3 linked regions of the Homo sapiens genome follow. The protein of the gene in region 1 purifies or fractionates together with the protein of each later gene. This does not show direct contact. Each region holds a gene or a part of one and is shown in the gene's direction. Other genes may lie near its edges. The genes, in order: ARL4C, RGS12 and FBXO33.

Evidence for each region.
Region 2: the proteins of ARL4C (region 1) and RGS12 purify together in Homo sapiens (co-immunoprecipitation; 3 studies listed by BioGRID and IntAct, with this or other methods). This does not show direct contact.
Region 3: the proteins of ARL4C (region 1) and FBXO33 purify together in Homo sapiens (co-immunoprecipitation; 3 studies listed by BioGRID and IntAct, with this or other methods). This does not show direct contact.

The regions. Positions count from the first base shown.
Region 1 is NC_000002.12:234,495,357-234,499,104, reverse strand, and holds the start of ARL4C (ADP-ribosylation factor-like protein 4C), read left to right. Parts: upstream 1-2,023; 5' UTR 2,024-2,518; coding exon 2,519-3,093; coding exon of another isoform or gene 3,094-3,097; exon of another isoform or gene 3,098-3,268; coding exon 3,269-3,299; 3' UTR 3,300-3,748. UniProt on the Homo sapiens protein: Small GTP-binding protein which cycles between an inactive GDP-bound and an active GTP-bound form, and the rate of cycling is regulated by guanine nucleotide exchange factors (GEF) and GTPase-activating proteins (GAP).
Region 2 is NC_000004.12:3,296,021-3,299,768, forward strand, and holds part of RGS12 (regulator of G-protein signaling 12), read left to right. Parts: intron 1-3,748. UniProt on the Homo sapiens protein: Regulates G protein-coupled receptor signaling cascades. Inhibits signal transduction by increasing the GTPase activity of G protein alpha subunits, thereby driving them into their inactive GDP-bound form.
Region 3 is NC_000014.9:39,404,802-39,408,549, reverse strand, and holds part of FBXO33 (F-box only protein 33), read left to right. Parts: intron 1-3,748. UniProt on the Homo sapiens protein: Substrate recognition component of a SCF (SKP1-CUL1-F-box protein) E3 ubiquitin-protein ligase complex which mediates the ubiquitination and subsequent proteasomal degradation of target proteins. Probably recognizes and binds to phosphorylated target proteins.

The DNA.
Region 1 (3,748 bases):
GACTGCAGTCCTTGATCCAGGGTGCGTGCTCCAGGCTTTGGTTAGAGTTACTGGGAAAGAGTTGTACCTTTTCCTTTCCAGGATCTAAACCAAGGATGTGAGTCCAAGGCTGCCAGAAGGAAAAAGAATCAACACAGGGGAACACGGAGGAGGACTGGAGAGACACCTGCTCGAAAGACTCCTTTTGAGCTCCTGGGTCTAGCCATGCCTGAAGAGGACCTTTATCCTTAACTTTTCAGTGATGTCAGTGAATACATTTCCATTTTTATTTAAAATGAAGTAAGTGGCACAGTGCAGCCAATATTTTCTGTTGAACTCTATCCTTCGGGTGGCTCACTTTATTCCTCATTGAAGGAAATAGCGTGTGGGTAGAGTGGGATGTGAGGAAGAGGGCAGGCAGGTGCCCAGTTTTGTGCATACAGACCCTTGGTCCTGGAGCAGGCAGTGGGCCTCTAGGTTCTGCCTTAGCCGTCACGGGCGCCTAGGCCTTGTTACCTCACTGGACAACGTTGGGTGGAATGATAGGCAGGGTCCTTTCCAGCCTGATACTTCGTTTCCAGCCCCAAATCCACTCAGTAGAGTGGATGGTCGCTCCGGCTGCCACCTTGGGAATTCCAAGGATAGGGGTGGTGGTGGCTTGTCCTTCCTTCTACAGGTGAGGTCTTCTCACATGCTTTGGTACCAACGATATCATATGTCTTTTCGTGGTTTGTGAACAGAAGGTGATAAAGTATTTCTCTAAAATTCTAGCTTTTATTCATAAATTCTTAGCATTTTCATTTTCTTCTCCCTTGACCCCGTTTCCGTCGTTTCTGTCTCATAAGCTAGAGCTGGGAAGATGCGGTCGCCCATGCTGCGGCCTGCTGTCTCCTGCGGAGCAGCTCTCCCCAGATCTGTGTGTTTGCCATAATATACTCTCACTTTTCTCCGCACCCAGAGAGGATATACATTTGTTACATGTTTACAAACCAGAATAAAACCATTGAACTGAGGTGACAGGAGGTGGAACCCGTGGAATATCAGTGTTTGTAACCCACTGCGCCACCAGCTCCAAGCTGTAGACACATTTTCTTTCAGCCCCCGGGGCTGGTGTTGCCATTTCTGCGGAGTAGTTCACCTGCGGGCAGGTGGTTCTCAGTTCCCAAAGTCGGGTGGCAAGGGGTGCTCTCCCGAAATGCTGACGCTTCCCCTGGGATGTCAGCAGAGTCGATGCGGACGAAATGAGGTAGCCCAGGCGTGTCTGGGAGGGTGAGCTGTCCGAGCTACTTGGGGCAGGTAGGTCTTCTAATCCCCCATCGCGGCCTAGGTCCGACCCTGCCCCAACCGCCGCCACCGGGCAAGAAAGGCTGGGCCTCCAGGGTGCCCTGGGCACAGGCCTGGGCTCCGGAGGGCGGCGCTGGCCGGGTGCAGCCCCCTGGAACCCAGGCAGGAGGCGAGCCTGGGCGTCACTGGGGGCCGGGGCCGGCGACAGCCGCGGCGCGAGGGTGGGAGGGGACGCGCCCGGCTGGATCCAGAGCGCAGGCTGGCAGCTCACCGAGGCCAGCCCCGTCCCGTCCCTTCTGGGGTTTGGAGGCCCCAGCCTCGCCGCCCTCACTCCCCAGAGCGGCGCTCTCCCAGTCACCCTGGGGGCCGCCCTGCCCCGCCTCGCGCCCACAGAGCTGGGACCCCGGGACCCACTCCCTCAGGCAGGCTGCGTCGCCCACGGCTGCGGCCCGGAGGGGCAGGGGGCGGGCTAGGACCCGGGCGGGGATTCCGGGAGCCGAGAGCTATTTTTGCAAACGCGTCAGCCGCTGGGGAGGAAGAGCCGGCTCCGCGCCCATTGTGTCTGCGCGGCGCGGCGCGGGAGGGGCCGGGGGGCGGCGGGGGGCGGCGGGGACGCAGCGAAGCGCGCGAAAACGGCCGGCTGGGCGGGGAGGACCGCGCCTGACCCCCGGCGGCGGGCGGGGCGGGGCCCGGGGCGGGTCCGGGGGCGGGTCCGGGGCGGGGCGCGAGGGGGCGGGTCCGGGAGCTCTCCGGCCGCTGCAGGCTGGCGGCTGCTGCGGCGGCGCGGGGACTGTGAGGCTGCCGAGCGGACAGCGACTCCCGGGGAAGCCCGCGCTCCGGGAGCGGGAGCGGGAGCAGGAGCAGGAGCAGCGCCGTCCCAGGCCAGAGGCGAGCGCCGGGCGCCGGGAGAGCGGAGAGCCCGGGCAGCTGCCGGAGCGCGGGGGCGCGGCCCGAGGAAACCACAGAGCGAGCCCAGGCCTGGGGAGGGCGCCGAACATCTGAGGCGGCTTCGCGGGAGACAAAGCCGCGCGTAGAGACGCGATGCCCGCCGATCGCGAGCCCGGCCGGCGAGGGCGCGGGGACTGCGGCGTCTGAGCGCGCCAAGCCGTGCGCCCGCGGGGACGCCGAGCCCCGGGGCCGGTGCGGGCGGCGGCGGGCGGGGCCCAGGTGCGCCCGGCCGCGTCGGGCCCGTGACTGCTCGGGGGGCGGCGCCCTCCCGCCGCAGCCGCAGTGGCTGGCGCCGCAGCCAGGAGCCATGGGCAACATCTCCTCTAACATCTCGGCCTTCCAGTCCCTGCATATCGTCATGTTGGGCTTGGACTCGGCCGGCAAGACCACGGTGCTCTACCGGCTCAAGTTCAACGAGTTCGTGAACACGGTGCCCACCATCGGCTTCAACACCGAGAAGATCAAGCTGAGCAACGGCACGGCCAAGGGCATCAGCTGCCACTTCTGGGACGTGGGCGGCCAGGAGAAGCTGCGGCCGCTGTGGAAGTCCTACAGCCGCTGCACGGACGGCATCATCTACGTGGTGGACTCGGTGGACGTGGACCGGCTGGAGGAGGCCAAGACGGAGCTGCACAAGGTGACCAAGTTCGCCGAGAACCAGGGCACGCCGCTGCTGGTCATCGCCAACAAGCAGGACCTGCCCAAGTCGCTGCCGGTGGCAGAGATTGAGAAGCAGCTGGCGCTGCACGAGCTTATCCCGGCCACCACCTATCACGTCCAGCCGGCGTGCGCCATCATCGGCGAGGGCCTCACCGAGGGCATGGACAAGCTCTATGAGATGATCCTGAAACGCAGGAAGTCCCTCAAGCAGAAGAAGAAGCGGTAATGCGCCCGGAGCGACCGGGGAGCGAGCGAGTGCGTCAAGAAAGAATGAATGGATGGATGGATGGTTGGATGGATGGATGGATGGATGAGCGAGAACCCGCGCCCGCGAACAAAGAGCGAACCAAAGCGATGCTTCGAATTTTTAAAACGGAATCTCTGCACCCAAATGCAGGACTGGTGACTTAAGGAGCTGCGAAGTCTGATTTACCGGCCTACTCTCGACCTGCCCCCCACCCCCAGCTCAGGGGACCTTTTGTCTGAACGCCAGAGCTACTGACCAGGTCGGGGGGCCGCGGTGGGGAGTGGAAGAGCCGGTCCTGCTGTCCGCCCTCCCAGCCCCAGGTGGAAGGCTCAGTTGTCGGAAAGACAAAAGCGATTTCTTCCCACTCCTGCAGGGCCAGAAGTTCAGGCTGCCCCGCCTCCACTGGGGGATCGCACCTGTGAATTACCTGAGGTATGCATTTCCCAGAACCGTGGGCGTACCCACCTTGGGGGGCATGTTGGTTCTGGGGGGACCACCTCTCCTTGCATTCAGGGGCTGTGAAGCTGAGTAATTTTCGGTCACAGGGCAGGCCCCTGTTGAAATTTCATTTGTCCTGCTCTGGGCCCAAAGGTGGTGGTGGTTTGGGTCATCAGAGGACTGCCTGGGACG
Region 2 (3,748 bases), on another chromosome or scaffold:
CAGTCAGCTTCTGGAGGCTGGAGGAGAGCCGTTCACCCCCCTGGTCAGCTTCTGGGGGCTGGAGGAAAACTGCCCCCCTGGTCAGCTTCTGGGGGCTGGCCTCATTCCTTGGCTCCCGGCTCCTGCCCTGCCTCCATTGTCACATCGCTGTCTTTCTCCTCCTCTTTATTTTCTCCTTTTAGAGACAGGGTCTCACTTTGTTGCCCAGGTGGAGTGCGGTGGCACAATCATAGCTCACTACAGCCTTGAACTCCTGGCTCAAGCCATCCTCCTGCCTCAGCCTCTTGAGTAGCTGGGACCCCAGGCATGTGCCACCATGCCCAGCTAATTTTTTCTGTTTTTTTTTTTTGGTAGAGATGGGGTCTCACTATGTTGCCCAGGCTGATCTTGAACTCTTAGCCTCAAGTGATCCTCCTGCCTTAGCTTCTCAAAGGGTTGGGATTGCAGGCACGAGCCACCGCGCCTAGCTTCTGTCTTCTTCTGCCATGTTCAAATTTCCAGGATAATCTCCTTGTCCTGGGAGCCTTAGTTTACTCACATCTGCAGATCCGTATTGCCGTATGGCTTTCACAGTCCCAGGGATTAGGGCCTGGATATCTTTGGGGATCGCTATTCAGCCTACAGCAGGCTCCTCACTTGTCTTCGAAATGACTTCACTTTTCCCATTGTGTGCGAGGAGCACCCGTCTCATGCCTCTTCTCTGGGATGGGCAGGGTTTGTCCAGGGAAGGTCCCTGTGGTTTCACTTCCCTGCCCTTGGGGAGAGGCGGGAGCCATCCTGGAAACAGGTGTCCTGGGAAGGAAGACAAGCCTTGCTCAGGATGCAAGCCCCAGTCATGAGAGGTTGTGGGAGGTCACTCATGCTGTGCCTTTTTAGGAGGTGGGGTCGTTACCAGTTCCAAACTGGATACTCCACACAGTGCTCATGCAGTTTTACCTGTGGTTTTGGGGGCCACCGTTGCAGAAGTTGCCTAGATTCTTCCATGAAGGAGCCTCTTGCCTCGGGCTCCGGGCAAGGAACTCTTGTGTTAGAAGTTCCCTTCTTCTGTGTCTTTTAAGGTCTGGACTTCAGTGAAAGAGAAAAGAAACATCTAGTTTGTTCTTTCTGTTTTTCTTTTCTTTCTGCTTTTCCATGCACTTGCTGTCCCCAACTCTGTAATCATGGTGATACCCGATACGCATACACACTCTACTCACATATCTTTTCCTACATCTTTGTGTCCCTTAGCAGTGATCTTAGTTGTCCTTCCAGCATGCCTGAAAAAGGGCTGAGTCTGTGGATTGAAGCGTCCAGTTGTAGGCATTCTCCTGCCCTGCCTGGCCGCAGCCCCCAGAGGCGGGATCCTAAGTGGTCTGTTTTCTCAGGCATTTACTGCTGTTGAAGCTGCTCCTTTAAAGCTTAAGACATTCTTTTTTTATTTCTCCCAAAGGCCGTGGGGAGGTTTAGCTCTCCTCTGTCCCACCAGCCTCCCTGTCCCTCTATGTGCCATCATAATCACTGCATTTTTGGTGAAATCGACAGTCCTTGCTCTTGTGTGACTGTAAGCATTGCTCATTACTGCGCCAAGGAGTGCCCTGAGCACAGGTCCTCTCGCACAGCCCTGTGGATTAGCATCTTCTAGTCACCCACCTATCAAAATGGTTTGTTTTTCATTGCATCCAGGACACTAGCCCCATCCCCACCCCTTTGGGATTGGAGCCTTCTCCCTGCTCTCGTTTGCCCTGGTCTCCAGGAGACCTGCTGCGCCGCTGTCACCTGCATTTCCCGCTGCTGTCCTCCATCTGTGGGGCTCCCTGTGCACTGGGTCCTGCTCTTCTCTCTCTGCTTGGCTCACTCCTCGTTTTGCTGAAGTCCTACTCTTTTGATACCTAAGAAACATCACATAGGTATTTTTTTTGGTCCTTGATTTAGAAAACATCTTTATTTTACTCTCCAATTACCTTTTAACTTAGCTGGGTATAAAATTTTAGACAATGATTTTTTCGGAATTTTGAAAATGTTGCTTCATTGCATTTGGTTTCTGTGCTGTTGAGGTCTGACGCCATTCTGATTTCAGTTCTTCTGTGTGTGATCTCTCCTGCCTCAAGCTCATAGAAGCGGCTCTTTTCCCTCAGTGTTCTGAGAAGCCCGATAATGGCATCTGCTTCCGTTTATTGTGCTGGGCACTCCGTGGGCCCTTTCAGTCTGAGGATAGAAGTTTTTAAATTTCAAAGATAATTTTCTTTCAGTTTTGCTGTTTTCTCTTTCTGGAACTTTTATTTGGAGGTTGGACCTCCTAGGTTGATCCTCTAATTCTCTTTTTTCTCATCTTGTTGATCTCTTTGATGTTTGTTCAATTTTTTTTTTAAGAGACGGAGTCTCACTCTTTTGCCCAGGCTGGAGTGCAGTGGTGCAGTCATAGCTCGCTGCAGCCCCAAACTCCTGGGCTCAAGCGATCCCCCTGCCTCAACCTCCTGAGTAGCTGGGAACACAAGCATGCACCCCCACAACTGGCAATTTTTACTTTTCATTTTATTTTTTCATAGTCTCGTCATGTTGCCCCTTTGCTGTTTCTAAGAAGTCAGTCACTCTGGTAGCTGCGTTGCTCCTTTATGTTATATGATGAGGTGCTTTCAAGCTCCTCCTGGGATTTTTGGCTTCCAGCAGTTTGATTGTGATGTTCTTAGGAGGGTTTGCTTTGTATTTGTCCTGCTCAGGGTTTGTTGAACTTCTTGGATATGTAATTTTTCACCATCTTCAAACTGCTATTAAGTTTCGTGCATTTTAAAATTTCAGTTACAGTAGTTTTTATTTCTAGAATTTTCACTTATTTTTTATGGTTGCCATTTCTCTGCTCTGTCATTTGTTTATTGTGATCATACTGTCATTAAATCTTTGAACACATACTAGCGGCTTTAATGTTCTTTTCTGCTAATTTCAACACCTGCATTACCTCAGGATCAATTTCTATTGGCTTCTTCCAACTATGGGCCACATCTTCCTGTTTCTTTGAACATCTAGTGTTATTTGATGGTGTACTGGACATTGTAGATGGTAACTGTAGTGACTTCTTTTTTCTGAAGAGTGTTGATTTTTGTTCTGGAAGTTAATTTGTCTGGACTCAAATGAAAATCTCTGCTGCAGTCTCTGCTTGGTGCTGTTGACCTTCCGGCTGCCTCCTTCTGCTGGACTCTGGGGTCTCTCTGTGCATGGATGGCTCACCACTGGCCAGGACCTAGGCAGAATTTACTAACAGATCTCACGACTGCCTCTTCCCCAGTGACCTCCTTTCTGAGATATGCCCCTCACTGTTCAGCCACCCAGCCCTCCCCAAGCCCTATCTTGGACTCTTCAAGCTGGGAGGATCACAACTTCTACCTGTGCTCTAGCCATTTTTAGAAACACTTGTTTTAGTTGGTGCAGCTCTCTCCTTTCAGGGGACAACTCCCCTCCACTTTCTGCCTGCTTTTCATAGCTCTCCAGGACCTCCCAGAGTTGGTTTTTGTGTCTTGTGTCTGGTTGGAACTTGATTTAGCAGCGTGGGAGGATGTGGGAACTGTCAATTTACGGACAGAGCTGCCGGCACTTTGATTAGTAGCCAGGCATTGGTCTTTGGCAGTTTGCTTGTTTTTCTCATAGAGCGTTCAAGTGATCAGGGAGCTAGCACTCCAGTTAAAAGAAAGTTCTTCCCCTACCAACACCTGACTTCTGGATCTTAAGTGTTAGCCTAGAATAGATGCATTTCCTGGATGGGTCAACTAACCTGATG
Region 3 (3,748 bases), on another chromosome or scaffold:
CAGAGTGAGACTCTGTGTCCAAAAAACAAAGAGAAATGGAAGTTAAATATTAGCAAACCATCTATCAAGGTAAAAGGTTAATATCCAAAATATGGTAACTCGTATAACTCAATAGCAAAATAACAAATTTAACCTAATTTTAAAACAAGCAAAAGACTAATAGACATTTCTCCAAAGAAGACATACAAATGGCCTCCAGGCATATGGCAAGATGCTGAGTTTCATTAATCATGGAAATGCAGATCAAAACCACAGTGAGATATCAACTCACATCTTAGCATGTCTATTATCAAAAATAAATTTAAGGTCAGGCATGGTGGCTCACGCCTGTAATTCCAACACTTTGGGAGGCTGAGATGGGCAGATTGGTTGAGTCCAGGAGTTCAAGACCAGCCTGGCCAACATGCTGAAACCCTGTCTCTACTAAAAAATACAAAAAAAGTTAGCCAGGCATGGTGGCGCACACCTGTAGTCCCAGCTGCTCAGGAGGCTGAGGTGAGAGAATCGCCTGAGCCTGGGAAGTTGAGGCTGCAGTGAGCCTAGATGGTGCCCTGCACTCCAGCCTTGGCAACGAGAGTGAGACCGTCTCTAAATAAATAGACATTTGTGAGGATGTAGAAAAATTGGAGCTTTTATACAACTGTTTGTGGGAATGTAAAATGGTGCAGCCACTATGGAAAGCAGTATGGAGATTCATCAAAAATAGCACTGCCGTATGATCCAATAATGGAATATTTCTGGATATGTATACAAAAAGAGTGTAATCAGGATCTCAAAGATATCTGCACACCCATGTTCACTGCACCATTATTCACATTAGCCAATATAAGGAAACAACCCAAATGTCCATCAAAAGATGCATAAAGAAAATGTGATATAGACATGCAATGGAATAATATTAAGCCTTTAAAAAAGAGAGAAATCCTACTATATTCAACAAACTGGATGAACCCACAGGACATTATGCTACATGAAATAAGCCAGTCACAGAAGGACAAATACTACATGACTCCACTTATGTGAGGTATCTAAAATAGTCAAACTCCCAGAAGCAGAGAATAAAATGGTGATTGCTGGGGCTGTAAGGAGGGAAAAATGGAAAACTGTTAATCAATGAGTATAAAATTTCTGTTCTGCAAGATGAAAAATTTCTAGAGATCTGTTGTAAAGCATAGTACCTATTAGGATTGTGTGAGTCTGTTGATCAATTTGGGGAGAATTGACATGTTAACAGTATTGAAACTTCCAACCAACAGACATGGCATTCCATTTACTTAGATCTTGTTTGATTTATTTCAACAATGTTTTGTAGTTTTCAGTGTATAGGACTGATACTTCTGTTCAGTTTATTCCTAAATATCTTGTATTTTTGATACTACTGTAAAAAGTTGTTTTTTAAATTTTAATTTCCAAATGTTCATTGCTAGCATGTAGAAATACAATTGATTTTTATATATTGACCTTGTATCCTGTGACCTTACTAAACTTGCTAACTTTACTGAACTCATAGTTATAGTAGCTTTTTTTAGATTCCTTAGAATTTTTGTGTAAATGATCATGTAATTGGCAAATAAGGACACTTCTGCTTCTTTCTTTCCAATCCATATTCTTTTTATGGATGAATAGTTTTATGGAGTATAGTTTTAATAGCTGATTTAAGTTCTTTCCCTAAATCCTTCATCTGCCATTTCTGAGTATATTTCTGTTGATGGATTTTTCTCCTAGTTGTGAGCCGTGTTACCTTACCACTGTGTGGACTCTACTGCTTTCCAGCGGTTCTCTCTTCAGACTTGTAGTTTTGCCCAACACATGTACAAATCATTACTCAGCCAAAAACCTGGGTAATATGAAGTCTTTGCAAATCTGTGAAGCTCTTTCTGTACAGTTTGTCTCTGGTACTCTGCCCTAAAATTCTAGACTGCAAACTCCCCAAAATCTCTTGTCTCCTCGATTCAGGGAGACTACCAGGCTATGTTGTAACCTGAAAACTCTCTCCAGACCATAATCGGAGGCAATTTATAATACACACCTCATTTTTTCCCCATCTTTCAGGATCACAGTCCTATATTGCTTATTGTCCAATGTCTGAAAACAATTATTTTGTTTTCTCTAGTTTTATAGTTGTTTACAGAGGGAAGGCCGTTGTCCTTAGTGTTTCTTTGTAGAAGAAGTAAAAGTCTCTTACATGTGTATTTTAATACCACCAAATAAATGAAAGTTGAGTTGAAAGGAGAAAAATACTGAGACTGTATGACTGTCCCCTCTGAGTATTATTAGAAATTGTGTGACATATTTTTTCTACTTTATATAATACCTTATATTCTCCAAAGCCAAATATCCATTCTTTTAGAAGCCTTTAATTTTTTTTATTTTTCTTTTTAAGAAAACTTATGGAAAACAAATTAACGTCTTTATAATTTATGGATATGGTAGCAACTTTAGAATAAAGAAAGGATAAAAACCTTAAAAGCAGACATACTTATATATGTTAGTAATGTATTCTTTGGAGTCTAATATGGAAGCCATTCTCACAAGAACAGTTTTATATCCTTTCTGTAACAGAAAAAAATACGGTTTTTTTGTTCGATGTCTCCTTGAAATGTTTTTTAAAATACAGTTTAGAATCACATGTCAAGTTGATTAGATTTACCAGAGTGACTAAAACTTTTTAAAGGTCAAGAAAAATTAGATTATTTCCATTAGTAATTCCTGTGATGTTTTCCTTGACATGTTCTACATTGGCTGTTTTATAACCTTTTCCTATTTACTACTTGGATTCTTCATATTTTTCTTATGTGGGGTGATTTTATATATGAATTTTTTAAAATGTAGCATTTGTTACACATTTTTCTCACAATGTTGGTTTGCCCTTTTTAGTGAGGTATGCTGTTGGATATCAAGTTTTTCATTTTTATATAGTCAAAAATGTATCACTTCCTAATTTATTGCTATTCTAAGATTAGGAAGACTTGACTATCTTAAAAGCACCTCAGGTTCAACATGTGCAAAATAGTGCTCATTGTTTACTTCACCACCATGCCTCCACACCCCCCCAAAAAATTCCCTGATTTTCATTTCTAATATTCCCTATCCCAGTAAGAAAGAAACTGTACCATGTTAACACAACCCAGAAAATTTAGGAGTTATTCTTGCCTACTGTCCCCTCACCCCCTATAGCTAATCCAGCACCTATTCCTGTCCATTTTACCTCTGATATGTAGCTTGAGGCTGTCCATTTTCTCTACATTGACCAACAAAACTCCAGTTCAAGGTGCCAGTATCTCTCATCTCTATTACTAAAATACTTTCTTAACTCATCTCCCCACTTTGGTTCTGGCATCCTTCCAGACTCTTCTAATGCCACAGTAACATTTTCTAGACAGAAATTTAATCATTTTATTCCTTTTTTTTTTTTTTTTTTGAGACAGAATCACACGCAATGGCGTGATCTCGGCTCACTGCAACCTCCCATCTCCCAGGTTCACGCGATTCTCCTGCCTTAGCCTCCCAAGTAGCTGGAATTACAGGAGCACACCACCACACCTGGCTAATTTTTTGTATTTTTATTAGACATGGGGTTTCACTATGTTGGCCGGACTGGTCTCGAACTCCTGACCTCGTGATCCACCCACCTCAGCCTCCCAAAGTGCTGGGATTACAGGTGTGAGCCACCGCGCCCAGCCTATTCTTTTCTTAAAATGATTGTTGAGCAGCTTACAAAATTTTTTCTTTGACATAGAACCCTGTC